4 linked regions of the Homo sapiens genome follow. The protein of the gene in region 2 purifies or fractionates together with the protein of the main gene of each other region. This does not show direct contact. Each region holds a gene or a part of one and is shown on either strand. Other genes may lie near its edges. The genes, in order: RPP30, POP4, RMP24 and RPP40.

What was found.
Region 1: the proteins of POP4 (region 2) and RPP30 purify together in Homo sapiens (affinity purification with mass spectrometry; 6 studies listed by BioGRID and IntAct, with this or other methods). This does not show direct contact.
Region 3: the proteins of POP4 (region 2) and RMP24 purify together in Homo sapiens (affinity purification with mass spectrometry; 4 studies listed by BioGRID and IntAct, with this or other methods). This does not show direct contact.
Region 4: the proteins of POP4 (region 2) and RPP40 purify together in Homo sapiens (affinity purification with mass spectrometry; 5 studies listed by BioGRID and IntAct, with this or other methods). This does not show direct contact.

What each region holds. Positions count from the first base shown.
Region 1 is NC_000010.11:90,866,916-90,875,012, forward strand, and holds the start of RPP30 (ribonuclease P protein subunit p30), read left to right. Parts: upstream 1-5,058; 5' UTR 5,059-5,071; coding exon 5,072-5,153; intron 5,154-7,953; coding exon 7,954-8,009; intron 8,010-8,097. UniProt on the Homo sapiens protein: Component of ribonuclease P, a ribonucleoprotein complex that generates mature tRNA molecules by cleaving their 5'-ends. Also a component of the MRP ribonuclease complex, which cleaves pre-rRNA sequences.
Region 2 is NC_000019.10:29,601,594-29,609,296, forward strand, and holds the start of POP4 (ribonuclease P protein subunit p29), read left to right. Parts: upstream 1-4,689; 5' UTR 4,690-4,725; coding exon 4,726-4,732; intron 4,733-7,063; coding exon 7,064-7,116; intron 7,117-7,703. UniProt on the Homo sapiens protein: Component of ribonuclease P, a ribonucleoprotein complex that generates mature tRNA molecules by cleaving their 5'-ends.
Region 3 is NC_000018.10:35,967,898-35,975,766, forward strand, and holds the start of RMP24 (UPF0711 protein C18orf21), read left to right. Parts: upstream 1-4,781; 5' UTR 4,782-4,831; coding exon 4,832-4,908; exon of another isoform or gene 4,909-4,969; coding exon of another isoform or gene 4,970-4,987; coding exon 4,988-5,010; intron 5,011-6,998; coding exon 6,999-7,198; intron 7,199-7,869.
Region 4 is NC_000006.12:5,000,959-5,008,686, forward strand, and holds the start of RPP40 (ribonuclease P protein subunit p40), read right to left. Parts: upstream 3,080-7,728; 5' UTR 3,045-3,079; coding exon 2,922-3,044; exon of another isoform or gene 2,858-2,921; intron 1,288-2,857; coding exon 1,143-1,287; intron 1-1,142. UniProt on the Homo sapiens protein: Component of ribonuclease P, a ribonucleoprotein complex that generates mature tRNA molecules by cleaving their 5'-ends. Also a component of the MRP ribonuclease complex, which cleaves pre-rRNA sequences.

The sequences.
Region 1 (8,097 bases), on a different chromosome or scaffold from region 2:
ATTTCACTTTCATTTACCTGCACTTCAAAAGAAAACTAATATTGCAAGCAGGGGCAGATTACCCCAGCACAGAAAGTGGACAAATTTTTATGATATCAGGTCAGTAACAAGAGTTTCTGGGGGAAGGTAAGAAGATGAGGAAGGAATCACTGTGAGCTGTGAGCAGCTCCCTGGATTGGTGATGTCCTATGGAGTGCCACTAGAGTTCTAGGTTTAGCAATTAACCCCTCTGGTCTGCTTTATGAGGGCTTCTGGGAAAGGCTGGGCAGATGGTTCACTGCACAAACTTCCAGATATGTGATGAATAGGGCAACTGTAATATCAGCCTGGAGTTAAGGCATCTTCTTTTAGTCTCCCCAAGAGCTCCTATAAGTGTCCCACCATGTGGGACACAGAGGATGGTTCTGTTTCAGTTGCTGGTGTATCACACTAGTGCACCATGTGCACAGTTCAGTGAATTTCTGGCCAGGTGATTAAATAATACATCCAACAGTGCTACAATTCTGTTGATATGGGAACAAAGTCAAACAAGAGGCCATGAGTTCATTTATTCAATCAGTTACTTTTGGCTGAGTACCACCTACTTTGTGCCAGCTCTGGATATACCCTCAACACCCTAGATCTCTGTCTCATGTATGTTCCTCTTCCACTTCCATGTGTCAAAATTTAATTCAAGCATTACTCCCTCAAGGAAACTGCCATTTTTTCCCTTCAGATCTCCCAAACTTCCCTCTCAATCTGGGAGATAAATCTCTGCTTTGTGCTCCCAATACATCTGGCTAAATCATTTTATAATATGGTTTTCTTGCCTGGCTCCCCCTCGGCCTTAAGCTGCAAGAGGACAGGGGTTGGGTGGAGCATTTTTCAGTTCACTCAGGAGGGGTGAATGGAATAAACTTAGGATAAGGCCAAAGACTAATCAAGCACACACCCAAGCCCACACACAGCCCAGAAAAGAGAGCTCTTCTGGGAGGATGAGAAGGGCTCAATGATTGCGTTGGATGTGAAAAACCATCCTCTTTTTCTAGGCTTCCCGCAGAAGAAGAAATGACTCAAGAGCCATCCTATCTGAGCCCAGGACTTCTCCTTGATATAATGGGAATAACAATATCTCTCTCATTGGCTATTGTAAGGATCAAATCAGATAACTGATGTAAAATGCTTATCATAATTATACAGTACTTTTTTTTTTTTTTTGAGACGGAGTTTCACTCTTGTTGCCCAGGCTGGAGTGTAATGGTGCAATCTCTGCTCACTGTAACCTCTGCCTCCCAGGTTCAAGAAATTCTACTGCCTCAGCCTCCCAAGTAGCTAGGATTTTTAAGAGACAGGTCTCATTCTGTCACCCACACCAGGGTGCAGTGGTGCAATCCATAGCTCATTGTATAATAACATGGAACTCCTGGGCTCAAGGGATCCTCCCACCTCAGCCTCCCCAGTAATTCAGACTACAGGTGTGTGCCACCACTTCTGGCTAATTTATTTTTTGTAGAGACAGGGTCTCACTTTGTTGCCCACGCTAGTCGTGAATTGGCTTCAAGTGATTCTCCTGCCTCAGCCTCCCAAAGTGCTGGGATTACAGGTGTGAGCCACTGCTACCAGTCTTAAACAGTACTATTATCTTCCAGTCAGAAATTTCTATGGTCTTCTTCAAGGTGCAGATACTTGTTGCCACAGCCATCCCTTCAGGCCAACTTCTGACCCCTCTTCCCTGTTCATCTCCCCTATTCTGTCTTGTCTTTTTCTTCTCTCCACTTCTCTCTCCCCTCTTCCACTTCTTTCCTTTCCTTCCTTCTCCCTTCCTACTTCTCCTTTCCTCTACTCTCCTTCTCTCCTCTCTGGTCTCCCTTCTCTTCTTTTCTCTTCTTCTCCTCCTCCCTCCCAAACAACTCTAGTCTCTGCTTGCTTTGCTCAGGAAGCAGTACACTAGGCAAGAACTGAAACAAATTGCCTCCATCCACATGTAGTTCTACCACTAATAATGCCTTAGTTTTCTCAGATATAAAAAATGGATATTGATTTTAAAAACAAAATAACAAAAAGTAAAAAACAGTACTTCTGCAAGTCTAGATCTGAAAACAGTAATAAAACAAAAATAAAAAACAGCATTTAACACACAGCTGCTTTGAAAATAAGATACATACATAAGTACTTAGCAAATTCGCTGGCCCTCAGTATAGTGCTAAATACTGATTGTTATCTATTCCTATTCTTTCTTACCTCTTCTCTTCCTCTTCACCCAGGCTTAGGGTGCAGAGAAGAAAAGAAGTTTATATGGTACAGTCCACAGCAAAAGTTCTGTGACTTTCAAAGAAGCCCACTTTAGTCTCATACTAGCATCAGATAATTAAACAGTCTCCTAGCCACAGCAATTAGGCAAGAAAAAGAAATAAAAGACATCCAAATTGGAAAGGAGGAACTCAAATCATTACTGTTTGCAGACAACATGATCTTATACATGGAAAACCCTAAAGGCTCCCCCAAAAAAACTCCACCATTTAAAACTAGCAAGTAAATTCAGTGAAGTTGCAGGATACAAAATTGACATACAAAAAAACAGTAGCATTCTGTATGCTAATAGGGAACTATCTAAAAAGATCAAGAAAACAATTCCATTTACAATAGCTACAAAAAAAGATACCTAGGAATAAACTTAACCAAGAAGGTGAAAGATCTGTACAATAAAAAAAATTAAGGAAATAAAGATGACACAAATAAGTGAAAAGATATCCCATGTTCATGAACTGAAATAATATTGTTGAAGTAGACATACTATCCAGAACGATCTACAGATTCCATGCAATCCCTATGAAAATACCAATGACATTCCTCACAGAAATATTTTTTAAAATCCTGAAGTTTGTGTGGAACCACGAAAGTCCTCAAACAGCAAGAGCAGTCCTGAGCAAAAAGAGCAAAGCTGGAGATATCACAAAGCCTGACTTAAAAATATGCTACAAAGCTATAGTACCCAAAACAGCATGGTACTGGCAGAAAAACAGACACATAGACCAATAATGTAACAGAATAGAGAGACCAAAAATAAATGCATGCACCTATAGCCAACTGATTGGTATTGAGGGAGGGATTGAGGGAGGAGGATGGGGAGAGGTTGGTCAACAGGTACAAAGTTAGATAGGAGGAATAAGTTCTGATGTTGTATTGCACACAAGGTGACTATGGTTAACAGTAAGGTATTGTTTATATATCACGAAACAGCTAGAAGAGTTTTTTTTAATGTTATCACCAAAAATGCATGAGGTGATGAATATGCTAATTACCTTGATTTGTTCATTATACAACATATACATGTATCAGAACATGAAATTGTACCCTATAAATATGTATAATTACAATGTGTCAACTAAAAATGAAAAAATAATTGAACTATCACCTTATTCACCTTCACCACACATTGGTCATATTTCTGACCAATCTAGATTGTTATGGTCATAGGTGATGATGCCTGTGTGACCCTGCAAAATTAACACTAGATATTCTCATGAAAAACAAAGCGTTTGCTTCATATGACCTTATTCTATTTGCAGAAGTAATATTCTCTTCTACTCCCACTTAGGAAATATCAAGTACTGGAAAAGGCAAAATATCTCTTCTTTACAAAAGTTAACCAAGAAGAGAATTGCATGCTACTGCATGGAACAGATCCTTCCTCCCTTCTGAGACCGACAAGAAAATCGCATAAAGGAGTACTAGTTAAGGTGTGGTCCATAGACGAGAGACTATCTGTGAACTGTTTGTGATCAGTAAATAAGAGAAATTGATGGGTGAAGCATGTGGGTGGGCTCCTGTAATCACAGCTAGGAGAGAGGATTGCTTGCGTTAGAGTCCATCCTGGTCAATAACGAGATACTCTCTCTAAAAACAAAACAAAACGAAACGAAAACTCAGCAGGCCACCAACTAGGATACTCCCTAGGTCAAATGACCGAGCCTCTAATTCTGTGATTGTTGTTGCTGTGCGCACGTTAATAAAACAAACAAACAAACAAAAAGTGAAGATGTTTAGAAAGTTTACAGTACTTTGGCATTGTCCTGATAATCCAAGCTCCTGATCAGCAGATTCTATTCAGCCAGGTATAGGGCAGTTCGAGTGTTGTCAAATTTGTGATTCCCATGAGGCCAGGCTGCTTACTGGTAATGCATAAAGGACCACATCCTGGTTCGCGAAGAGTTTGGGGGTAGAGGAAAAGGAGGGAGAAACTGATCCTTCATCACAGGTAGTTTGAGAGCACTGATGTAAACTATAGTCACACTTTTGTAGTATAATTGATTATTATCCTCAATAGATCATTTACACTAAGTCGGAAAAAAGTGGAAACATCAGATATGTGGGATATGCGTCACCTTGTACATTTCTCAGCTGGAAAAGTGTAAAACATCTCAATTTTGCACCTCCCTTTTCAAACATGTCTTTGGCTAAATCAATGTTGGCTCTAACCGCTCGTCCTAGAGCGAGTCCCGCCATCTTGTGGTTGAAGATGTTGACTGCCACAGAGAATAGCGGGCTTTGACATCAACAGTTCTGATTGGGTAAAAAGACCCTCGTCTTGGGGTAGTTCTCTTTTGAAGTCCTAGAGTCCGTCACACACAAACGCCTTCTTCCCGGTAAGTCCATTGTAAACAACGGAATGGACTTTAGGGAAAGGAAAGGAAAACGTGTTCTTTAAGACTCTTTAAATAGCGTTTTCACCCATTAGCAGAATTCTCTGATTCATGAGCAGCACTAAGTAGATACCGTGTGCGTGCATTTTGAATGAATTCATTTCTACACTATTTTATAGGAGTATTGAATAGTTGGGAATTGGAACCCCTCCAGGGGGAACCAAACATTGTCGTTCAGAAGAAGACAAAGAGAGATTGAAATGAAGCTGTTGATTTCAACACACAAATTCTGGTGGTAGATGAAAGCAAAGCAAGTAAGTTTCTCCGAATCCCTAGTCAACTGGAGGTAGAGACGGACTGCGCAGGTTAACTACAGCTCCCAGCATGCCTGAGGGGCGGGCTCAGCGGCTGCGCAGACTGGCGCGCGCGGACGGTCATGGGACTTCAGCATGGCGGTGTTTGCAGATTTGGACCTGCGAGCGGGTTCTGACCTGAAGGCTCTGCGCGGACTTGTGGAGACAGCCGCTCACCGTGAGTTGCCCCGGCTTCGCGCCTGGCCAACCTCATGCCACCCAGACCATCGGGCCACACTCCGGAGTAACTATTTCCTGATGGGTCTCGGTCAGGTCTCCCAGAGTCTCTGGGATGTCCCTGGAGGCTGATGCCCGCCGAGGTGTTGGTCTGATTCCTAGCGCGGGAAACTCGAAGGTTCTGGGGGTTGTTATCTGGTTCAGCTACTTTCCTGCAATGAGGGAACTGAGGCCTAACGAGGGCGAGGGATTTGCATAGGGGCCTACAGCTGATAGGTGACAGAAGCCGGAGCTGGACTCCAAGGGTACAATCTTCTAAGCTTCTAAGTTACTATCAGCCCTTCCTGATTCTCACGACAGTGTCTAAACAAATACTGGAATTTGGGGCACGGACAGGAAGCGCCGTGGAGGCTCGGAGAAGGAGGAGGACGTGGGAGTGTTGGAACAATACTATCTAGACAGAGAGAGGGTAGGTGGGGGCAGAGGACATACACAGCGGAGTGGAGGTGGAGGAGGAGGATAGCATGGCCCAAATCGAAGGGAAGCGAAAGCCTTGAGAGACGAGAACCTGTTTTAACTATTGGAGTTAGTCATGGGTTCTGTATTCCGTAGACTGTAAAGTGTTGGAATAGAGAGATTAAAAAGAATCAAGAGGTTCGTGTAGTAACATCTGCTCCTCAGAGACAGTTTTCAGCTCATTGTGAGTTCTGATTACTGATACTGTTCAGAGGTGGTGCTAGAAATGACAACCACTTCTTGGCAAAGTGAATCACACCACTTTTTTATTGTTCTCTTTATGAAGTATCCGTGGCGAAATGACTGTCCCTTTCCACTGCTGCCACTAAATGAACGTTATCTCTGTGGTACTTTGCTCATCAGCACGAAGACGAAAGTAGACATGATGATCTGGGCCATTTGGCGCTAATGTTCTTTGATCCTGTAAAATAAGTTTTCCTAGGTGTAGTTTGTCGCAATTATTACCTCCTCAATGAGGCTTTTCCTGACGCCATCCCATTTTTGAATAAATCATGAGCTTCCTAAGAGAATTGCCATGTCTTATCCTTTTATTTACTGTGCTTAACACGTTCACTCTGCAGGCACCAGTACATGGCAGTTACTCAGTTAATGCTTGTGGAATAAACTGAACACATTAAAAAAATTAATACAAAAAAGAAAAGTTAATAATGATTTCTTTAGAGAATTTCCCCCAGTTTAAAATACACTTGGAAGAGGTGTGGTAATATATGTACATTGTTAGTGGTTATTTGTTTGTAAATTAAATGGAATTCATGGCATATAAAGTTGCCTCAACTTACAAGTCAAAGACAAAGGACTGCTCTGCTATTTGATGAGTCTGGAACTAAATAGTGGACATTTGCAAAGAATAGGAAAGACAGAGCCCTGGTTCTCAGTTTCTGATGTGATACAAGAAACCAATAATAAGCTTCAGAAATATACTGTGTAAATTAAAATACCCTAAAGCCTGATTGGGGAAGTAAGTACTCCTAAGCTGCCAGATGAGGAGTAGTCTAGGAAAAAGTTTTGTGGAGAAACAGATCCTAGTTGACATTTCTGTAGAACGGTAGGGACATTGTTTAGTAGCCAAAAGGATATCCTAAATGGGTATAACAAGGAAGTTTAGAGCAGATTTGGGAGTGTGGTAAAGAAGAATAGGGAGGAGGTGTGGCTGGTTGATTTGACTAACTGGGTGCAAGGTGAAGCCCAAGGTACAGGCATACTTGTGATTTTTTTTTTGTTTTTAAGGGTAACTTTCTTCAGGGAGCCTTTTGTGACCCCTACACCAGGTTTCACTGTGCTATGTACTTCCATAGAATCCTTACTTATAAAAAACATGTATTTATATACAATGACTTGCTTAATTGCCTTATTTGCCTTCGTTCTCCAACAGACTAGGCTGTAAATTTCTTGTGGAGAAGGATTATATTATTTATCCTGTATGCTCAACACCAGTTTAGGGCTTGTCAAGTAATGGATGCTCAGTAAATATTTGAGGGAGGAAGGGAAGAAGGAAGTTGGACAAACTGTTGAGAGTTTGGCATTGATATGTATTTTAATGTTAATATCCTTTCATCCCCATTGGTATTTTTAAAAATTAAAGATGGGAGTCATGATTTAGATTTTTTTTTGGTAGCCCAAATGTCCAGAACAGTGCTAACTGATGAGGATAATAAAGCAAGCCCTTGACCTCAAGGAGCTCCCAGTCTGTCGATGGTGTGCAGCTTAAAATGGGAAGCGGGCAGTGGTGTGAGGGAGTTATCACTCCATTTCTCCTTAGGAAAGGAGTCTCTGAAGGAAGTAGAAGGATAAAAAGCAAAAGAAATGAACGGGAATAAAAGTGACAGTGATAAAGTAGGAACTTGATGGGATAAAAATGAATATAGGGTCATGAAAGAGAATGACATTTGAAAAGGAGAAGCACAAAGTTAAGAGTCTTTAGTATCATTTTAATAATAATTCATAATGGTTAAACAAAGACCTGTGTGCCAGGCACTGTTCTCAAACACCTCATGTGTATTATTTCATTTAAATTTCATGACAGTGTATGAAGAAAGTGTTGTTATTTTCACCATTTGACAGATGAGGAACCTGAAACTTCATGTTAAGTAACTTGTAAGTGGTAGTGCATAGACTTTAAATCAGGCAGACTGACACTAGAGTTCACATTCATAACCACTCCTCAAATGTCCTCCTACTCTTGACATCTAGACTCAGGATGGACCTGTGTTACAGGAAGGAGAGGTTGTTATATTTAACAAAAGTGTTCAATTTTTCTTTTTCAGTTGGCTATTCAGTTGTTGCTATCAATCATATCGTTGACTTTAAGGAAAAGAAACAGGTAAAATAATATTTCTAAAGTTAATAAGTTCATAAATAAGTATTTGTAATTCTGTTTGTATTGGTAATTTGGAAGCTACAGATTAGAA
Region 2 (7,703 bases):
TGGTGGATTAAAATTTTCACTGACAATGAAGGCTTCCATGTTCTTATTGCAGGTTTGCTGGTATTCAGGATCATGACCTTTCAGCGGTAAAAAAAAAAAAAAAAAAAACCTACTAGAGGCCAGGTACGGTGGCTCAGGACTGTAATCCCAGCACTTTGGGAGGCCGAGGCGGGTGGATCACTTGAGGTCAGGAGTTCAAGACCAGCCTGGCCAACATAGTGAAACCCTGTCTCTACTAATAGCAAAATTATAGCCGGGCGTGGTGGCAAGCACCTGTAACCCCAGCTACTCAGGAGGCTGAAGCAGAAGAATCCCTTGAACCTGGGAGGCAGAGGCTGCAATGAGCCAAGATCGCACCACTGCACTCCAGCCTCGGCAACAGAGTAAGACTCCATCTCAAAAAAAAAAAAAAAAAAAAAAAAAAAAAAAAAAACTAGAAATAATGTTTTTCTTTAATCCGAAAGTGGAGGAGAGGGGATACACAAAAAAATACTTCTCCACTATATTGTCAGAGGCTATTAGATAAATGGTTTCTGTAAATTTAGTTGTGTTTATTTACAGAAGTCCTAATTTTCGTGGATACCCACTTACTTAATAGTTGAGGCTTAATCTTTTTGAGCTTACATATGAGATTTTTCTTGAATACTCAGAATAGCAGCCTGAATGTCTCAGAGCAACAATCAAAAGGAACCTGTACAAATACAACAAAGTGTGAATTGTAGAATCAAAAAGCATATGGGTGTTCACTGTTTAAATGTTTCCATTATTCTGTATATTTGAAGTTTTTCATAATAAATTGCTGGAGGTCGGAGGGGAGTCACCTGCAATGATTCCATCAAACATTGACTTCTCGTGGAACTTTCACAAAGCCACTACTGGGAAAACACATGTGTATCCATGTTTGAAAGTTTATCATTTATAGCTATAAAAAAGAAAAAAATTAAAGTCTTTTCACCAAATGCAATTTAGAAAAGAGAAACAAAAGGAAAAATCTCCCATAACTTCACTTACCCGGTTATACAAACTTTTAGTATATTCATGTAACTATTGTGTATATATTTGGCTTTATTAGTTTGTAACCTTTTTAAAAATTGTATGTAATTTGTTTAATGGCTGCATGGTAATCCATCATGTTATAGAAATGTGTTAGCAGTGGCAGAGAACCGAGTTACCCCAAGTAACTGGAGACGAATCCGTACGCGTTCGCAGCAACTTCAATCTTTGCCTTGTCAAAAGAAAGAATTTGACTGAGGGGCAAAAAGCAGAAAGAGACCAAGGCAAGTTTCAGAGCAGGAGTGGAAGTTTATTAAAAAGCTTTAGGCCGGGCATGATGGCTCACACCTGTAATCCCAGCACTTTGGGAGGCCGAGGCGGGTGGATCACAAGGTCAGGAATTCGAGACCAGCCTGACCAACATGGTGAAACCCCATCTCTACTAAAAATACAAAAATTAGCTGGGTATGGTGGTGTGTGTCTCTAATCCCAGCTACTTGGGAGGCTGAGGCAGGAGAATCGCTTGAACCTGGGAGGTGGAGGTTGCAGTGAGCCAAGATCGTGCCACTGCACTCCAGCCTAGGAGATAGAGCAAGACTCCGTCTCGGAAAAAAAAAAAAAAAAAAGCAAAGCTTTTGAACAGTAAGGAAAGGAAAGAAAAGGAAAGTATTATACAAGTTGGAAGGACAAGCAGGCAACTTGAGAAACCAAGAGCGCAGCCTGACCCCTTGACTTGGGGTTTTACACGTTGGCCTACTTCCAGGATCTACTTCCAGGATCTTACATTACTTCTCCCCACTCCTGAGATCTTACAGGAAGCTGCTGATCAGTTTCAGGTGTTTTCTATCTGTTAGGCGGCTGCCTGTTCCCTAGCGCCAGCTGTGGCCAATTACTTTAGAGAAACAGTTAACAACCACCTGACCATCACCTGATGGTGGCCCAACACCCCTGGTGTGTGTAGCGGGGAGCCTTCTCCTGCCCTGCTCATACCTGACTACCTACCTACTGTAACAAATGTGCCATACCTAGGAACAGTTTATAAAAACAGATTACTGGGACCCACCTTATAAAAACAGATTATTGAGACCCACTGGATAAAAACGAATCTCCAGGTATGATACCAAGAAATTTGAAATGAAAGCTTACCCTGTGATTGTGATCCTGTATTTGGTCTGTGGATCAAGCAAATTAAGTGTGTGCTAACTAATCAGGTAAATTAATGCATTTAATAATGCATTAATTAGCATACCTAATTACCTAATTAGCACATAGTTAATTTGCTTGATCCACTATGATCAAATATAGCATTGTTTTTAAGTTTTTGCTATTATAAACAAAAATCACAAACATCCTCACAGGTATCTCTCTGCATACAGAAACATTTTCTGAGAATAATCAAGTGGTTTGTTTGCTTTTTATTTTTTTTGTTTGTTTGCTTTTTAAAAAATATTTTAGGCTGGGCGCAGTGGCTCACCCCTGTAATCTCAGCACTTTGGGAGGCCGAGGCGGGTGGATCATGAGATCAGGAGTTCGAGACCAACCTGACCAACATGGTAAAACCCTGTCTCTACTAAAAATACAAAAATTAGCTGGGCGTGGTGGTGTGTGCCTGTAATCTCAGCTACTCAGGAGGCTGAGGCAGGAGAATCACTTCAACCTAGGAGGCAGAGGTTGCAGTGAGCCGAGATCACACCATTGCACTCCAGCCTGGACAACACAGCAAGACTCCGTCTCAAAAAAAAAAATATTTTAATGATGAAGGAACTATGTTGTAATTGCAACTCAAGGACGACCCACCCCACCACCATCAGGGAATTCGAGGGGAGACTGGCAGTTATCCAGGGATCCCAGAAGGAGTCAACTGGGAGTTAAGAGTCCTAACAACCCTAGAAAAAAACTTTCAAAGACACAGGTCTTCTCATTAATCTCCATAATCACAGAGGTCTTGCCTAAAAGGGCCCCCCTTGAGTACACAGCTCTGAAACTGGCTAACATCTTCTGCTGTCTCATTTGATTTTAAAGTTCACATTTGTGAAGGGCTCTATTGTACAACATGGTGACTATAGTTAATAACAGTGAATTTCAGTTAATAACCTGAATTTCACTGAGAGTAGGTCTGAAGTGTTCTCATCACAAAATGAGTGTATTAGCATCGCTCATAGCTCATTTAGCCATTACACAATGTATACACATTTCAAACCATATTGTATACCATAAATACATACAATTCTTATTGGTTAATTTTAAAAATAATAAAAGTTCTCTATCAGTCCCATAAATTACAATTTTCAGGCATCTGCAAAGGCAGCATGTTTTGGTTTAAATGTGGTCTTTCCAAATTTTATACGTATAAAATAAATGCATAAGTGTACTACATATGCAAAAACTAATACATAAATTTTATAAAGTCAATGCACGCGGGGTCACTGGGATGAACCAATTTCAGTGCCTGCAGTCTAATGTTTAAAATCAAAATGGTACAAGGTCACCACCAAAGAAATTGTTTAAGCCAATGTTTCTCAAACTAAAACCTTTGGACATACTCCCAGAATCCCCTGTAAAGAAATGTATACTGTACTCAAAGTTGAGAACCACTGACTTAGCATAAAGGGACCGTATTTCTTTTCTCTCCCACCCAGCACAGGCCCAGTGCTCAGCAGAAATTGGGGCTCCACAGTTCTGCCCAACACTGGGTCACTGCTGAGAAGTCTGCACCAGGCCTTCCTGCACCTTTCCACTGAGCAATGGAGTTTGTTTATTCATTTATTTATTTATATGGAATTTATTTATTTATTTTGGAGACAGGGTCTCACTCTGTCACCCAGGCTGGAGTGCAGTAGCGCAATCCAGGTTCACTGCAGCCCTAAACTCCTTGGGCTCAACTGATCCTCCCACCTCAGATACCCGAGTAGTTGGGACTACAAGCACGCACCACCACGCCTGGATAATTTTTTTTAAATGTTTTGTAGAGATGGGGTCTCCCGATGTTGCCCAGGCTGGTCTCGAACTCCTGGGCTCAAGAGATCCTCCCGCCTGCGCCTCCCACGGTGTGAGCCACCTTTGATCTTATTGCTATGATTTTTTTATTGATAAAAACTAATAAATATTCTGAGTCTCAAGAAAGCTTTCTGAAACTATCAAAGGGACCCAGGCGGCGCATCACTACCTGTGAGGCCGACCCCACTCACAGCACAGACTGCAAGTGAGGCTTACAGATGGGAAGTGCCCTAAGCGAGGTTAAACAGCTAGTTAGCAGCAGACACGGAACTAGAACCTAAGCCTGCTGTCCCAGCTTCGGTGCCCGTGCTCACAGCGGAAGCTGCCTCGGCTCATCCGTAAGGGCGCTGATTAGGGACGACAAAGACCTCACCCCACCGTCCCCGTCCCATTTCCGCCCTCCCAGATCCCCAACCTCCTTCGAGTCCTCTCCAAGTCGCCTCGCCTCGCTCCACTCCAGGCCTTAGCAAGCATTCCACATGCCTTTACCCCAACCCTACTGCCTGTCCCCCAAAAGATGCAGGCGGAAAAGACCCCAGGAAGCGAGCCCACTCCTCCCCACTGCTCAGCAACACCGCCTACGACGTTCTCAGTAGCCGAATCCCTTTCCAGGCGCATGCGCCCCCGAGGTGGGCGAGCGCCGGTGATGTCACGCATAGCGCCATCTCCGAGCTCCGAGAGTCTGCGACAGCAGCTGCCAGTGCGTCATCAGAGAGCGCCGGAAGCGGTCCGAGAATGAAGAGTAAGCGGGGCCGCGAAGTTGGAGAGGGTTGGGGACGTTAAGGGTCGGGGTCTTGGTACTGGTGGGTGAAATGGGTCCGGGCTACCTGTTGCTGCGGAGTCCTAACAGAACCGCTACAGGAATGGGCCCACCCTACCTAAGAAAAACTGAGGGCTGGAGCACGGGTTAGCCTGGCTCGACCTCTGAGCTAGGGAGGGATGTCAGGGCTGGAGGCAGGTTCTCCCGGAGGCTGCTCAGTGGTGTGCGATGCTAGAGGAGGGTTCCAGGCCTTGGCTCAACTTGGCCACTATCTCCCGGGGTGACCGCGGTCAAGATCCTGCTCCTTTCTGCGAGCTGGTTTCACACTCTTAACCTGATGCAAAGCGCCGAGAGCTGCTGGGGAATGATATCACTAACCCAAAGCTTTGGTCCTTAGGGGTAGAAGACATGTGCCAAGGAGGGGCGTGTAGACACCGTTAAGACTGGGCCTTCAATCAGAATTTTTATTTTTCATCTCTGCCACTTTCTACCTATATGATCAAGTAGATTGTCTCGGCATGTCTGAGCTTCAGTTTGCTCATGCACATAAGTGTAATGAGAAAAAATATGTGTACCTTGTAATGAGGTTTCTGGCAAGTAATGGATGTTCAGTAATTGTTAGATGTGTATTGTTGCAGAAAGACTTCCAAGTCTGTTACTAAGCACCTGTAACAGATGAAGCAAAGTTATCAGGCCCCGCAAGTTGCTCTCTACAGTTTATAATCCCCATCTTCCATTTGAGGGAGAACTAGATGCTATATATAAAACTTGCAACCACATTGGTTTGCTTGATCAAACAAACATACCTGGCTGGGTGTGGTGGGACACGCCTGTGGTCCCAGCACTTTGGGAGGCTGAGGCAGGGGGATCACTTGAGGCCAAGAGTTGAAGACCAACTTGGGCAACAACATAGCGAGACCCTGTCTCTACAAAAACTGGAAAAAAAAAAAAAGAATTAGCCAGGTGTGGTGGCACACACCTGTAGTCTCAGCTACTCAGGAGACTGAGGTGGGAGGATCACTTGAAACCAGGAGGTCGAAGTTGCAGTGAGCTATGATTGTGCCACTGCACTCCAGCCAGGGCAACAGAGCAAAACCCAGTATCAAAACAAACAAACAAACAACAAAAAAAAAAAACTTGTAACCACCTTGCATCAAACATTCTCAGGGAAGTACAAGAAAGCTGGAATTAAATTTACAGAGTATAGTGTAAATTACATTTTCTAGCTATTTAGCTCATAAACCAGGCCTTAGTAGTCCCATTCTTATTCCATTCACACCTGTACTCTGTCCCCAGTGCCATGGTTTTCTTCTTTCAAAAAATTAAGAAACAGAAGTGTGGAATTTATTTTAGAGGTTGAAACTTTATTGACCAATGTATATTTTGAGTTTAAAGGAAAAACTTGTATTTTATCAGTTCAGGACACCATCGATTATGTGACACATTATAATTTCATATTAAAATGTGAAGAATCTTTTTAAACATCTTACAGTTAACAAAACCTATTTCTAACCATCTACATCCTAGACAGCTATATCATATAACTTTTAATGAGTTACCTTGTTAGCAAGTGCTCAAGCTTCTAACTTGGGGTATTTTAAACCAATGCAACTCAAAATGTGATTCACTGACCTGCAGTAGTATCTGGGAATATGTTAAACACTCAGGATCTAGGGTAGGAGACCAATAATCTGCATTTTAATAAGATCCCAGAGATTTTTACACACGTTAAATTTTGAGAAGCATTCTTTTTAAACCATGTGCTTGGAACTTCTAGCATAGATGTGGCCAGAGGGTGGGATAAGAGGCATCCAAGAAAGCTTTGCTCTTAATACCAACCTCATCTTCTCCTATCTCTGAATAAGCAGTTGTTCTGCTATAAGTGTAGAAGTGTAGTTATTTTCTTTTCTTTTCTTTTCTTTTTTTTTTTTTTTTTTTTTTGAGACAGAGTCTCACTCTGTCACCCAGGCTGGAGTGCAATGGCACGATCTTGGCGCATTGCAGCCTCTGCCTCCCAGGTTCCAGCGATTCTCCTGCCTCAATCTCCCATGTAGCTGGGAATACAAGTGCAAGCCACCATCCCCGGCTAATTTTTGTATTTTTAGTAGAGACGGGGTTTCACCATGTTGGCCAGGCCGGTCTTGAACTCCTGACCTTGGGTCAGGATCCGCCCGCCTTGGCCTCCCAAAGTGCTAGGACTACAGGTATGAGCCACTGCGCCTAGTGGCGTAGTTATTTTCATAGTTAGAAAAGTCTTGGGTCTTACAGCCATACCCAACAAGAATTGATCATTTCTTTTTTTTAATCCCCCAGGTGTGATCTACCATGCATTGTCTCAGAAAGAGGCGAATGACTCCGATGTCCAGGTCAGTTCTTGGCAGGGAGTCCAGGAGCAACAGAGGTGATGGCAAAGATGGCTCAGTAGCTTCTGAGCCCCCAGCACTGATTGAGATGTCCTTTCCCACATCATACTCCTCATTTTTCTGGCAGACATCTAAGGCTGGATCAAAGTCTGTAGTTCTCATTACCTGTTCCCACGTGCCAGCCTCCTTTTCTGTTGTGCCAAAGTCAAGTTTGGTAAAATGAGGCTTTCCTTAACCTTTTATCATTTCCCACTGTGTTGGGGACACCAGGCTGTGCCCACGTGGTGGGCAGCATCATTCAACCTTGTCACTGTGCCCTCTGCACTTCTGCAGAAGGTGTGCAATCACATATCATAAGTGAAATTTACAGATTATATCTGAATGCCTCGGCCTGCTTTGTCAGTTTTGCAAAAGTTCCTCTTGTGGCTCATAATGAGAGCATTACCTTGAAAGCAAGATTTTGAAAGACCAGTATACCTTTATTTTGCTTCTCCATGAAAGATGAGCCACTCAGGTATTTAAGAGAATCAGATCATTGTCCTATTATAGTCACAATGACGAGAGTGAATTAATTTTTAGTTAGCATCTAC
Region 3 (7,869 bases), on a different chromosome or scaffold from region 2:
CGGAGGTTGCAGTGAGCAGAGATCACGCCACTGCACTCTAGCCTGGACAACAGAGCTTAAAAAAAAAAAAATCATAGGGGGTTAAAGTGGGTTTTTCTTGCTGTCTTCTGTTCCAGTGGAGGATCACAGAACTGGTTGAGCCAGATTACGAAGCACTGATCTTAGATTTTACAACAGTGATGTTATTATCCCCAGGAGCAATTTGAGGAGGATCAGAATCTTGCAGCCTCCAGCTGCATGGCTCCTAAACCATAATTTCTAATCTTGTAGCTAATTTGTTAGTCCTACAAAGGCAGCCTGGTCCCCAGGCAAGAACGGGTTTTGTTTTGGGAAAGAGCTGATATCATCTTTATTTCAAAGTCAAACTATAAAGGGCTGTTACAAAGTTAAACTATAAACTAAGTTCCTCCCAAAATTAGTTCAGCCAATTCCTGGGAATGAACAAGGACAGCTTAGAGGTTAGAAGCAAGATGGAGTTGGTTAGGTCAGATCTCTTTCACGCTAATCATTTCACTGTTAATTTTTGCAAAGGCAGTTTCAATTGGACTGGGAGAGATAAAAGAGGAAGCAGGAAACGAATGCAGAGGGCCATAGCAGGGGTGCAGGCAAGAGAAGAGGGTGGCTGTGGTGGTGCAGAGAAGCGGGCAGTCATGATTTACTTCTGATGAAGAGCCAGCAGGACCTGAGGACAGACCAGCTGCAAGCCGTGGGAAGGAAGAAGCAGCACTGTAACATGTCCATAATGGCCCCAACGCCCAAGCTGGAAGGTTGTGGGTTTACAGGAATGAGGGCAAGCAACACCTGGCCCGCCCAGGGCGGAAAACCGCTTAAAGGAATTCTTAAGACACAAACAAAAGCATGAGCGATCTGTGTCTTAAGGGCATGTTCCTGCTGCAATTAATTCAGCCCATCCCTTCCTTTCCCATAGGGGACTTTTAGTTAATTTAATATCTATAGAAACAATGCTAATGACTGGTTTGCTGTTAATAAATATGTGGGTAAATCTCTGTTCAGGGCTCTCAGCTCTGAAGGCTGTGAGACCCCTGATTTCCCACTTCACACCTCTATATTTCTGTGCGTGTGTCTTTAATTCCTCTAGCGCCACTGGGGTCTCAGCACATGCACACATATTGGATTTCATTTTCACATTTTCCCTCTTTCTGCTTTATTAGTGACCTAGAAACAGATACAACTATGTAAAAAACAAAACAAAACAGAACTTCTATATGGTGTAGTGGCATTTCTCCTATGCCATGGTGGTGTTGTGAGGATTAAATAAATTAATACACGTTAAGATGCTTAGAAAAGTGCCTGGCACATATACAGTGCTCATTGCATATTATTTTTATTTCAATTCAAATGGAAAAAGACTAGTTTACCTAGCATGGGGCTTTTGTATAACTTACTATCCATTTTGAAAAAATGTCAGATGCTCTTACATTTAAGTGAAAATACATTTCATATCAATTAAATATGTGCATGGAAGAAATCATACTAGAAAAGTATGAGAAAAACATCTGATTAGCCAGGTGCAGTGGCTCACACCTATAATCCCAGCACTTTGGGAGGCCAAGGCAGGTGGATCATGTGGTCAGGAGATAGAGACCATCCCAGCCAACATGATGAAACCCTGTCTCTACTAAAAATACAAAAATTAGCTAGGCATGGTGGTGCATGCCTGTTATCCCAGCTACTCGGGAGGCTGAGGCAGGAGAATCGCTTGAACCAGGGAGTCGGAGGTTGCAGGGAACCAAGATCGCACCACTGCACTCCAGCCTGGCAACAGAGTGAGACTCTGTCTCAAACAAACAAACAAAAAAATCTAATTGAATAGTTAGTTGCCTAACTTTGACAAAGCAGGACTTTTTAGACCACACAGAAAACCCAGATCCAATAATGAAAAGAGTGACTTGTTTGATCACATACAAAATTTTGTAATGTTAAAAAGTTATAAATTATGCCAAAGATAAGGAAGAAGAAAATATTGCATCACATATGACAAGCAGAAAGTGAATTTCACCAAAATAAAAGATCTTCTAAAAACTGATAATCCAACAAGAGATTTCTCTTCATAAGAGAAAATGCAAACCATCAAGGGATAAATGAAAAGAGGATTTGCCTTTCACCTATCTAATTTGACCCAGCCTTCTTAGTCATTGATGCTGGGAATATGAATTGCTACAACCTTTTCTGGATGATCTGGCATATAAAAAATGTGCATATTATTCTACCCAGTAATTTATCTTTTAGGAATTCAGACAAAAGAAATAAAACCACCAGTACTGTATTAACTAGCAAAGCACGAATTTTTTTCCAAATGAACATCAATAGGAAAATAAAATATGGTTATTTATTAAATAAATTAAATTATGTTTCATTACATTTTGTAATATGTTCAGCTATTTAAAAGCATGTACTAACTTGAAAAGATGTCTGTGGCCTGCTGTTAAGGAAAAAAGACAAGTTATACAGTAAGGAACTAACATTTTACTTTTGGTTTTGGTTTTGTGTGTGTGTTTGGTTTGTTTCTTTTTGTTGTGGTCGTGGTAAGTGGTGGGGGGTAGCATATTTATACACGTACTTAAGTGTATAAGGACATAGGTAGAGGAGACACCCAATTATTCATGTTGATCGCCTCAGAGAAGTGGGATGGAAAGGTGGGAAGAGCAGGGAAAATAACTTTTCTTCGGAAAAAGTTAAAATGCCTATAGAGATGTAAATATATACTTTCTCTTTACAAATCTTTATATAATTTAGCCCCCCGCCTCCCGCCTTTTTTTTTTTTTTTTTTTTTTTTAGACGGAGTCTCGCTCTGTCGCCCAGGCTGGAGTGCAGTGGCTGTGATCTCGGTTCACTGCAACCTCCGCCTCCTGGGTTCAAGCGATTCCTGTGCCTCAGCCTCCCAAGTAGCTGGAACTACAGGCGCATGCCGCCACACCTGGCTAAATTTTTGTATTTTAGTAGAGACAGGGTTTCACCGTGTTGCCCAGGCTGGTCGCCGACTCCTGAGATCAGGCAATCCACCCGCTTTGCCCTCCCCAAGTGCTGGAATTACAGGCGTGAGCCACTGCGCCTAGCCAATTTAGCTCCCTTTTAAAATTAAAAATGGGCTGGGCATAGTGTCTCATACCTGTGATCCTAACACTATGGGAGGCTGAGGTGGGAGGATCACTTGAGCCCAGGAGTTCAAGACCAGCCTGGGCAATATAGTGAGACGCCCATCTCTACCAAAATAATAATAATAATAACAACAACAACAACAACAACAACAATACCTACGCATGGTAGTGTGCCTGGTTCCCAGCTACTAGGGAGGCTGAGGCAAGAGAACCCTTTAACCCAGCCCAGGAATTCAAGAATGCAGTGAACTGTGATCACACGACTGCACTCCAGCCTGAGCAACAGAGTGAGATCCCATCTCAGATAAATAAATAAAGCAGGCTAAATAAGGGTCCACTATCCAGAACATACACATTAAAAGAACCTTACAACTTATCAACAAAAAGACAACTCCAATAAAAAATGAGCAAAGAACTTAAACAGCCAAAGATACATAAATTGCCAACAAGCACATGAAAAGCTGCTCAAAAGCATCAGTAGTCAGGGAAATGTTAATCAAAACCACAATGAGATGCTACATCATACTCACTAGGAAGGCTAGATTTAAAAAAAAAAGAAAAAGAAAAGCAAATGTTGGTGAGGATACGGAGAAACTGGAACCCTCATTAAGCACAGAATTACTACATAACCCAGCAGATCTACTCTTAGGTATTATACCCCGAAGAACAGAAAAAAGGCACTCAAACAAATGCATGTACACACATGTTCACAGCGGCATTCATTCATAACAGCCAAAAAGTAGAAACAATTCAAACGTTCAACTGATGAATGGATAAACCATTGTGATACCGCCATACAATGGAATATTATTCAGCCATAACAACGAATGAAGTACTGATACGTGCTGCAAGGTGGATGAACCTGATACATTATGCTAGGTGAAGGAAGCCAGACACAAAAGGTCGTGTGTATGATTCCATTTACATGAAATGCCCAGAATAGGTAAATCCATAGAGACAGAAAGCGGACTGGTGGTTGCCAAGGCCTGGGAGGGAGAGGAGGATTGGCCGTAAGTGCTTCATGGAGTTGGCTGTCCTTCGGCGAAATATTTTGGAAATAGCAGAATGGTGCTTGCACAACATTGTAAATTTACTAAACGCCACTGAATTGTTCACCTTAAAATGGTCAATATTACGTTATGTGAATTTCACTTTAATTACAAAAAGAGAAACGCTAGCGTTTACGCAGGCGGAGGGCAGGCTGGACTGGGGACGCTCCTCCCGGCCGCCTCGTTGCTGGCAGCGCTTCCGCCCGCCGGCGCACCAGTCAGTACCGCGCCCGGCGAATGTGGAGGGCGAAGCTGCGGCAGGGCAATCACAAAAGGGCTGTCAGAGAGGAGGCGAGGCGGGAGGAAGATGGAGAGGCGGGTGGGAGCCTCACCTTTGGACTCTATCGCCACAGCCCGGTCTAGCCGCTACGCCCGAGCTCAAGTCTGACTCGAAACTCCGCTGGGTGCCTGAGAGGACCCGGCAGGCCAAGGGGTGGAACTGAGGGGGCGGGGACGCGGCGGGCGGGTGGGGCCGCCTCCCGGCTGGGCACGCCTCCAAGCCAGACTGGACGCGAAGGAAACCGGAACCTGTCTGCCTACGGTGCCTGTTTCCGGAAGCAGCTTGAGTCCGGACACCAACGACGGGGACGCTGGGAAGCCGACTTCCGGCGCCCTATTTTCTCACCTGGTTCCCGCGGCGAGCCAGCGGCAGCGGCGGCGGCGATGAGACAGAAGCACTACCTTGAGGCTGCAGCGCGGGGACTGCACGACAGCTGCCCGGGCCAAGCCCGCTACCTCCTGTAAGAGGACTGGAGGGGAAGCGGGAGGCGAGCGGGTAGGTGTTCCTTTGCTCCTCACAAGTCTCTTTCTCTTTTACAGCTGGGCCTACACTTCGTCGCACGGTAAGAAGAACGCCTGTCTCTTGTGCTTTGGGCTCTTGTCGCCCCGCTTTCCTCTGTTCCGCACAACGCTCAAATAAGGCCGATGGACTCACTTCCCTCCATAAAAACAACAACAACAAAGCCCGCATGTGTCTCGGTTTCGTGAAAAATCCAAATTCTTTAATGTGCCTTGTCTTGCTTTGTTAGCGGCATTTGACACATTGATCAGTCTTGAAATAGTTTCCTCCCTTGGCTTCTAGGTCATTACGTAGTTCACCTCTTCATTTATTACTTCTCGATTTGCTTTGCTGGTTCCTCCTAATCTCCCCAAGCTTTAAGTATTGTCGTGGCCCAGTACTCAGCCCTTGGACCTCTTTTCTAGGCACACTCGCTTCCTTGGTGACAGTTTTTCATCCAATCTCATGGCTTTTAAATACCATATACTGAGGACTTACAAATGTATATACTCAGCGCAGACCTCTCCTCTGAATTCTAGACTCATATATCCGAATGTCTTCTTGACAAATTCTTTTCAATGTCTAGTAATTCAAACTTAGCTAATATGTCCAAAACCTGAGCTTTAACCCCCAACAAGATCCTCCAGTTTTTCTCATTTCAGTAAATAATTCCATTCTTCCCTTACAGTTATTGAGCCCAAAAACCTTGGAGCTATTCTTGACTCCCTAACTCTCTCTCCTCCCCCAGGCCAGTATGCGAGCAAATCCTGTTGGCTTTAAAATGTAGCCAAAATCAGCCAGGAGCGGTGGCTCACCCCTGTAATCCCAGCACTTTGAGATGCAGAGGCGGGCGGATCATTTGAGGCCAGGAGTTCGAGACCAACCTGGCCAACATGGCGAAACGCTGTCTCTACTAAAAATACAAAAAAATTACCTGGCATGGTGGTGCACGCCTGTAATCCCAGCTACTCGAGAGGGTGAGGCATGAGAATCTCTTGAACCCGGGAGGTGGAGGTTGCAGTGAGCGGAGATGGCGCCATTGCACTCCACTCCTCACCACATCCATTGCTACTACCCTGCTCCAGGCCATCACCAGCTCTCTCCTGGATTAATAAAAGTGAAAGTCCTTTAAAAGGATTGTAAGGCCCTGTGTCATAGACCTGCATACCTCTCTGACGTACTCTTTCCTTCACGCAACTCCAGTCACACTAGGTCTCCTTGCTTTTCTGTTTCAGGGCCTTTGCAGGTACTCTTCACTCTGCCTGGGATTCTTGCCTCACATATCTGCTTTCATGTGAATCCTCCATTTCCCTCTGGTCTCTATAATATCACTCAATGAAGCTTTCCCTAGCCACCTATTTAAAATTACAGTAACTCCATCAATACTTCTATTCCCCCCTCCTATCTTACTTTTTTATTCCCAGCACTTAACATTTGACGTTGTTATATTTATTGTATGCCTCGGTGAATTGTCCTTTGTTCACTGCTGTGTCTCCAGCACTTAGAACAGTGCCTGGCATTCTTAATTGTCACTTAGTGAATATGAATGAGTTTCACATTTGGCAGAGCTAAGTTTAAGTGTGGTCTTTAGCTTTATAAGTGCTGTTGCATCCCTGGCACTTAGCACAGTGCTCAACAGTAGATACTATTCATTGTGCTAATTATTTAAAAAAAGAAACAAAATCGCAGTGCAATTTGTTATTTTGTGGTAAATGCATTGGTAAAATTGGTGAAACATAACAGCCTTTTAAAACTTAGTAGCAAGTAATGAGAAGTGGCTAGATTTAGGATATATTTTAAAGCCTACAGGATTTGCTAGCATAGGTTGGAGATTTGCCTATCTGTTGCTGAAAGGAGTGAATGGATGGAATTGTAGTATTTTGCAAGGTAAATTACTGCCAATTTATCTTTTTGTAAATTTTCATATTTTGAGTTTACTTAATGTGTATCTGCTTATATTAAATTTCAATATACTTTTTATAAATGTTGACAGTTTGAGGTAACAAAATATTCTGATTTGCTGAATTGTGAGTTTCATTTGTATAATTTTAGATGATAAGAGCACTTTTGAAGAAACGTGTCCATACTGTTTCCAGCTGTTGGTTCTGGATAACTCTCGAGTGCGTCTCAAACCCAAAGCCAGGTTGACACCCAAAATACAGAAACTTCTTAATCGAGAAGCGAGAAACTATACACTCAGTTTTAAAGAAGCAAAAATGGTGAAAAAGTTCAAAGACTCCAAAAGTGTATTGGTAAGATTTCAGTTCCAGTATGTATGAGTAAACTAGAATTTTCTTTTCTTTCACTTAAAATCAGTTTAAGAATCAGCCTCAGTATAACTCAGAGATTTATAGTAGTATATTTGGATTATCAAAATATATACATAAACACTTCTCTAATGATTAGTGTTTCATTATAAGGACAGCTTACTTTTATTTTTCATGATTACCTAAACCAAACATGGTGAGCTCTCAATTGTTTTGAGATCCCATTGTTGAGCATTATTTTTCACAAATGTGCGGATTTCTTGAACTGACCGTTATGGCTCCACCTAAATTGCAGTTACCACTACATTATTTTTTCAGTTAATGCTCCTTTGCTTCAGATAGTACTATGTTATGTATGTAGGTATCATGTCACTTCTTCAGCTGTCCTCCCACTCCATGTCAGAGTGGATTTACAGGTATGCCCAACAAAGGTGAATGCATCTTTTGTTCTTTCAACATTTTATTGAGGGTCTATCATATGCCAAGCAACATTTAATATTGGGGATATAAGATGGAATAAAACAACCAAAATCAGATTACGTACGGTTTACTATATGGAGGCCAGTAGCAAATACACTTTATATCCCTGCATATTTTATGTTAACATTTATCAACTGTTCAAGTGCCTGCTTATTGTCTATCACTGTGCCGGGCAC
Region 4 (7,728 bases), on a different chromosome or scaffold from region 2:
CATGCAGAAGACCAAGCATGCAGAAGACCAAGCTTGCAGAAGACCAAGCTCCAGCTAGTTCACTCCCTGACCAACAGCCTATTTGTGCAAGTTTACTATCATCAAGCAAAAAACTGACTCAGAACGGAACGTGACCTTTGGGGATGCGCGGAGAGGGGTCCAAAGTAGAATTCTAGATAAACATACACCTCTCAGAGACAGAGTTCCAGGTTAAGATTCAAAAGCTACCCAACCTCTCCAAGCCTCAGTTTCCTCACTGTTAAATGAGGATCATAGGCTTGCTTCATAAAGTTGTTGCAAGGGTTAAATTTGGTAAGACATTTAACAGTGCCTGCTACAGCCATTGTCCACGTAATTCACAGAGTGGTGTCAGGCCTTGAAATAGATGAAAGGAATAACGGTGATGAGACCAGACAAGATGCCCAGCTCATAAGTCGCCCCAGCAGTGTCAGAATGAGAGGAGCTACTGGTAACTAGAGTTCTTCATATCTTCACTGGAGAGGACACACATGGGGGCTACCACAAGATAAGCATGTGGCCACTGTACAGGTGAGTTATGTAGTGTGGGTGGAATCCCTAAAGGCCCTCTGAAATAGTTTCAAACAAATGGCTCCCAGGAATCAACTGAAACAAACCAGTCCAACCCAGCAGATATGGGTGGAAATGGGGTGAGTAGAGGAGGGGTTATGGCTACAAAATCTAAGCAGAAGACACTGGACCCCAACAAGCACTTTGCTCTGTGAACAGTAGCTGTGGCTGTATCGGGAGACCAACCCTCTGAGACAGCTGCTGTGGGACTGCTGACAGCATAGTGTCTTTGCAGCCACATCTTCAACAGCAGTGCATCTGAACACAGACTGCAAGTCTCTCCTCTCCATTAATCCTCATTTTAAGGGGACGGATACTGTCATGTTACAACATCCCCATCCAACACTTGTGGCCAATTGCAATCAGAAACCACCACCTAAAGAGGGTACAAGAAAGAACAGGATGAGAATGCGGGGGAGAACGCGTGTGCACCTGACCACACAGACTATACCACAGGCCCTGTTTGAAACAAAACAACAGCCCTAGCATCGTGATGTGGTCTCCCTACCCTTCCTCATCCAGCCTTGTTCACAGCCATTTCAGGTTTTTCTTACCTTTCTTTATAAAGGTACTGATGAATTCAGGTGTAATTAATTCATGAAGAGGTAAATTCTTCACAAAGTAATAGGGTCCAGTGTTCATGACCAGGTTTTTCAGTTCTTCCGATAGTATCCCACATTCAGGAATGAGAAATGAAACCTATTGGAATGTGTAATACAAACAAGGTCTTACTTCCATGAAGATGAACACCCAGGTTTTTAGGAATGAAACAAAATCATGAAAGTTGTTATTTCTCCACGAGTTTCACTGGAACATAAAAACACGGGCAACAAAACTCTTATGTTAACTTACCTATCTCAGGCAAAGAGAAATCTGACTACTTAAGTTTTTCATTTCTGCATTCAAACGTACAGTACAGGAAGGGGATTGAACAGAATACTTTTAATGGAAAACTCGTGCTTGCATTTAATCTTTTGCAAATTAGCAATGCTGTATATTTTATGTCCTGTTCCTTTCACTATTTTATTTTCAAGGAAATATAGTATAATTGAATATCCCTTGATTTGTTTACCCTGGTGTTATCCTGGAATGAAACAAACTATCTGTCGGGGCATAAGGAATTAATTTATGGACATCCAATTACTAAGAATCTATGTGCAAGCAATGGTGCTCCTGTATGTTTTCATTTTCGAGACAGAAAAATGCAACAGGCGAGTTAAAGTATACATCCCTGACTGCTGTGATGAGCTTGACATCCAAAATAGGTGTTAAAAACAGGGCAGGCTTCAAATGTTGCCACATTGTAAAAGTCATCACTGTCCCAAGGCTCAAACACCAGCCTGTTCTGACTGATCAGGTCACCACTTAACATCTCTGAAACACTGCTCAGTCAAACCTGAGTTATTAAGCTGATCCATTTAAAGTGTAAAATGTTTAATCCCCCATGATAAGGTTAGTTTCTTGAAGTCTCTCAGATATCAAATTAGTTCCAACAACCAATTTAGAAAATCAGTCGCTTCGGCCGGGCGCGGTGGCTCACGCCTGTAATCCCAGCACTTTGGGAGGCCGAGACGGGCGGATCACGAGGTCAGGAGATCGAGACCATCCTGGCTAACACGGTGAAACCTCGTCTCTACTAAAAATACAAAAATTAGCCGGGCGTGGTGGCGCGCGCCTGTAGACCCAGCTACACGGGAGGCTGAGGCAGGAGAATGGCGTGAACCCGGGAGGCGGAGCCTGCAGTGAGCCGAGATCGCGCCACTGCACTCCAGCCTGGGCGACAGAGCGAAACTCCGTCTAAAAAAAAAAAAAAAAAAAAAAGGAAAATCAGTCGCTTCCTGGGCCGAGCCTAGGCAGGATGCTCTGGTGAGATCCACAGGTACGCAGGTGGGAGAGGGATTCAAGCTGGGGAGGAGGCAGTGGTGGGGAGGAGGCGCGAGACCCGCCCTGATTTGGGGAAAAAGCGAGGTGCACGTGGCTGCCCCACAGCCTAACTCCCTGGTCCCGGCCCTGAACCTCGAATCCCTCCCTGGACTCACTCCCAGTTCGGCGGGTTGACACGAGTGAGCAGCCAGAACGCCCCTGACAACAGCTCCCTCCAGACTGGGTACCGCCCCCACGCCCGGCGCATCCTGGGAGTTGTAGTCCTGTAGCCCTGCAAGCCACTGGCTTAGAGCAGTTAAGAGACTACAACTCCCAGCAAGCCGGGCGAGGGCCCCGCCCCTCCGCGTACCGCCGGCGGCCCCGCCCCGCGAAGCCTAGCACTCTCCCCAAACCTCTCTCGCACGCGGGGACTGAGCACGGCCCGAAAAGCCGAGGACAGCCGGACTCACCCTGTAGTTATAGTAGTGCGTCTGCACAAGATGCCGGTGGCGCGACTTGTGGTTGCCGAAGTTGGATTTCTCGCAAACCAGTAAGTGCCGCGGCGCCTCCCGAAGCCGGCGCAGCGTGGCCATGCTCTCCTGGGTTCCTGGTCCTCCCGGCCTCCGCTGGCGGGGCACGCCCCGCCCCTTCCTCCCGCCCCGCCCCTTCCCTCCGGCCGCATACCCGCTGCTGTGCGCCCCTGGCGGCGGTGGAGTGGGGATGGCGGCGCTGGATTTCTGAGCAGTTCTTAGACTTCTTAGGAGCCCACGCAGCCGCTCTTTGGTGGATGTCTGAAGCTGTAAATTCACTGTCCCAGTGGCTGGGAACCTGGCTCTTGCCTTTTCAACGCCACTTTTCCTCCGTCCCCGCCATCCCTTGGAATTGCCCTAAACCCTCTCTGTGGGCCCCGCCTCGGAGCGCCCCTTGGACCCCAGCCTGGCGCCGGCGCATACCTCGGTCAGGCCCCTCAGAGGGACCGCTTCCTGCCACCGTTATAAAAGGAAAACATCGCATGGAAAGGCCCAGTTCCTTTAGTATATGGTCAAGAAATGTAGCCGCACAGTTAAGTAACCCCCTAAGCTGCTTTGGGGGCCACACCCAGCTGCTTTCTGACTTCTCACACTGTTTGGTTCACAGGACTCTGTTACCCATTGGGGACCTCTTGGCCATTATTAACACAGGCCAACAGGACTAAAAGTTTGTATCAGTCCTTCCCAAAACATTAGGGAAGGTTGTGCGGGAAGGTAAAGCACAATTTTTGCCTTACAATAGGACTCCTTTGAAACTACTATTGAGTTCCCTTTTAAATAGCCCTTCAGAACCGCTTTTAATAATGTGTTGTTTCTGGGGGTTAATAGTGATAATTCTCCTAAGTCATTTTTCCATTTCGTTTTTCTGTCACGGGCTTGGAGCGGTTAAGAGACTGCGGCTCCCAGCATGCGGTACGTTACTGATCAGGGCAAAATCAAGTATGTTACTACATGCTTCTCAAACTAGAGAGGCACAGCCCCAATTCTGCACTGGCAGGATACAAAACAGCAGAATATTGGTGATACATCTTCCTGGAACATCAGTTTTTCTATGAGATGTGGAAGAAATGGAATTAAGTAGTTTACAAGGTAAATAATTAAGAATTTAAAACTAAGCCAGTCACAGTGGGTCATGCCTGTAATCCCAGCACTTTGGGAGGCTGAGGTGGGAGGATCACTTGAGCTTAGGAGTTCAAGACCAGCCTGGGCAATATAGTGAGACCCCATCTCCAAAAATAAAAATAAAACTAAGACAAGGCTGGAAAGTCATCTGCCATTATAAACATCAGTAATCTGGCCGAGCACAGTGGCTCACGCCTGTAGTCCCAGCACTTTGGGAGGCTGAGGTGGGAGGATCACTTGAACTCAGAAGTTCACGACCACCCTGGACAATATAGTAAGACCCCATCTCAAAAAAAAAAATTAAAACTAAGACAAGGCCGGAAAGTCATCTGCCACTAAAAACATCGGTAATCTGGCTGAGTGCTGTGGCTCACGCCTGTAGTCCCAGCAATTTGGGAGGCCGAGGCGAGCAGATCGCCTGAGGTCAGGAGTTCAAGACCACCCTGGCCAACATGGTGAAACGCTTTCTACTAAAAATACAAAAATTAACAGGGTGTGGTGGCGCATGCCTGTAATCCCAGCTACTCAAGAGGCTGAGGCAGAAGAATCACTCGAACCTGGGAGGCAGAGGTTGCAGTGAGTCAAGATCTCGCCACTGCACTTCTAGGCTGGGCGACAGAGTGAGACTCTGTCTCAAAAAAAAAAAAAAAGTCAAAATGTAATCTATGACTGAAATGTCACATTTTCTTTCCAAGGAAAAACCTAATGAGAACCTGTTTCCCATTATTTTAAACAGCAGAATTATAAGGCGTGGCAAGTTAATTAAAAAAAACCCTACTAATTTCCTAGATCACAATATGGCAGCTAGATGTTTTATAAATAACAGCTACTAATAACATGTTAAGATGTAAAAGGCTTAAAGCATTGCTTCTTGGTCACCTCATATTTAATGTAATTGTCACCAGACAGTTGCTTTGTGTGTGGTAGCAGTGGCCCAAGACTGAAACATCACGGATGTACCTCTCCTTTGTCGACATTCCAAAACTCCACAAAGTGACTGGTGTGATCCTGATGGTCTACCAATTGTATTTGGAAGCACCGTGAAGCTTTTCCAGCAAACCATTTAGTTTAAAATGTTGCATATTTTGAAGATGCAAAATAAATTCTATCTATGTAAATATCAGCTGAAAAATGTATTGAGAGATATAAACTGCCCTCTTCTCAAGAGAGACCCCACAGAGTCTTGCAGCTTTAAGTCCTCCTCTCTGGCTGCTGATAACCCCTAGATGTGGCGCCTCTTCCCTGAGCGGAGTATCCAGATGACTCTAGTACAAGGACTCACCCCTGACTTCTTCCCTTCTCACCCGCCATGCAATCCCACAGTAAGTCTTGTGGCCCTGCCTGCAGCACGCATCCTGATTGCAGCCTCTTCTTGCTCTCTGCGTTTCTACAGCCAGTTTCAGCCACCTTCGTCACTTACTGGCCTGCTGCCCAAGACTGCCTCCAAACCTTCTCCTTGCTGCCTCTCTTGCCCTCCCACAGTCCATTCTCCACTCAGCATCCAGAGTGATCTCTTAAAAACATGAAAAACATAATATACCCCCACAGCCCCATTTAGACCCTACCACTGGCTTCTCACTGTGATGGAATAAAAGCTTACACATTGGCCTGAGCCTGCCTCTTCAGCCTCATCTCCTTCCCTTGCTTATTCACACTCTGTCTGTCAGATTTTCTGGTCTCTAGAGCTGAAAGCAGTCTTAACTGACAAACAGATATTAGATCATAGAATCTAGAGCACAGGGTATGGAAGGAAAAGTGCAAGATGGAAAAGCCAGAAATGGTTAAAAAAAAAAAAAAGCACATGAAACAAAACATATCTATATGTATACCCAAAATAGTAACATAATTTTGAAAAATCTGAGCTAATAGACTTGCAAAGAAATAGAAATATCTTTGATCATATTCTGAAAACAAAAAAATATAGACTTAGTAAATATAAAAGGACAAAAATTTTACACATCCCATTTCCGGGCCATAATGCAATAAAGTTAGAAAGAACAGAAACAGAATTGGCCGGGTGCTGTGGCTCATGCCTGTAATCCCAGCACTTTGGGAAGCCAAAGCGGGTGGATCACGAGGTCAAGAGATCGAGACCATCCTGGCCAACATGGTGAAACCCTGTCTCTACTAAAAATACAAAAACTAGCTGGGTGTGGTGGCATGCGCCTGTAGTCCCAGCTACTTGGGAGGCTGAGGCAGGAGAATCACTTGAACCCGGGAGGTGGAGGTTACAGTGAGCCAAGATCTTGCCACTGCACTCCAGCCTGGCAACAGAGTGAGACTCTGTCTCAAAAAAACAAACAAAAACAACAACAAAAAAAAAAAACAGAGAAAGAAACAATTTAAAGATGCTCAACTCTTTGACAATGTTAAAATATTCTTTTAAATAAATTAATGCCTGGGTCAGGGTGCAAATCCAAAACACAATGACAGTGTCCATAAACTTCTGTGCTTGTAAATGTATCATAACCATATACAGGCCGTATTGGTGAAAGGAGACAGCTGTCTGACTCAGAAACACAGGGAGTGATCAGGTTATGTTCATTAGGATCCTAGCACTGCCCTGGAGTTGTTTAACATCATCTCTTTACAGTTAGGAGCAGACTGCAGGGAAATGTATCTATTGCAGACAACTGTGCTAAATCAGAGGCCGCCCTCCTGCTGAACCTGAACTTGACCTCACAGTTCCTGTCAGCACAGGGTTCTAGGCAGCTGCTACAAATCAACTGGTGTTGGCTTACAGATTGAAACTGCCCTCAGACAGCAGAGTGGAAACTGGCACCAATGGCTGCAATGGAGAAAATTAATGGCCTGTGGGCCACACACGGTGGCTCATGCCTGTAGTCCCAGCACTTTGGGAGGCCAAAGCGGGTGGATCACTTGAGGTCAGGAGTTCGAGACCAGTCTGGCCAACATGGTGAAACTCTGTCTCTACGAAAAATACAAAAGTTAACCGGGTGTGGTGGCGCATGCCTGTAATCCCAGCTACTCAGGAGGCTGAGGCAGGAGAATTGCTTGAACCCGGGAGGCGGCAGTTGCACTGAGCCGAGATGGTGCCACTGCATTCCAGCCTGGGCAACAGAGTGAGGCTCCATCTCAAAAATAATAATAAAATAATAATAATAATAATAATGGCCCCTGCTATGGTCTGAATGTTTGTGTTCCCCCAAAGCTCATGTATTGAAATGCAATCACCAATGTGATGGTATGAGGAGGTAGGGCATTTGGGAGGTTAGAAATGGGATTCATGCACTTATAAAGGAAGCCTCAGAGAGCTGCCTTTCCCCTCCTTCTATATGAGGACAGAGGGAGAAGATGCCATCTAATGAACAAGAAAGCGGCCCCTCCCCAGACACTGAATCTGCCAGTGCCTTGATCTTGGACTTCCCAGCCTCCACAACTGTGAGAAAGAAAAGTCTGTTGTTTATAAGTTACCCATTTTATGATGTTCCCTTATAGCAGCACAAATGGACTAAGACAGCCCCCAAGAAGAATGTATGACCCACCTAAGAACTAGACAGTGTCATTTTCTCCTGGGCTGCTCTCTCCGTGACTGGAGTGGAGATCAGTGAAGGACACAAACATTAACCATGGCAGCTCCATAGGCCATATCGCTGTACGGAGG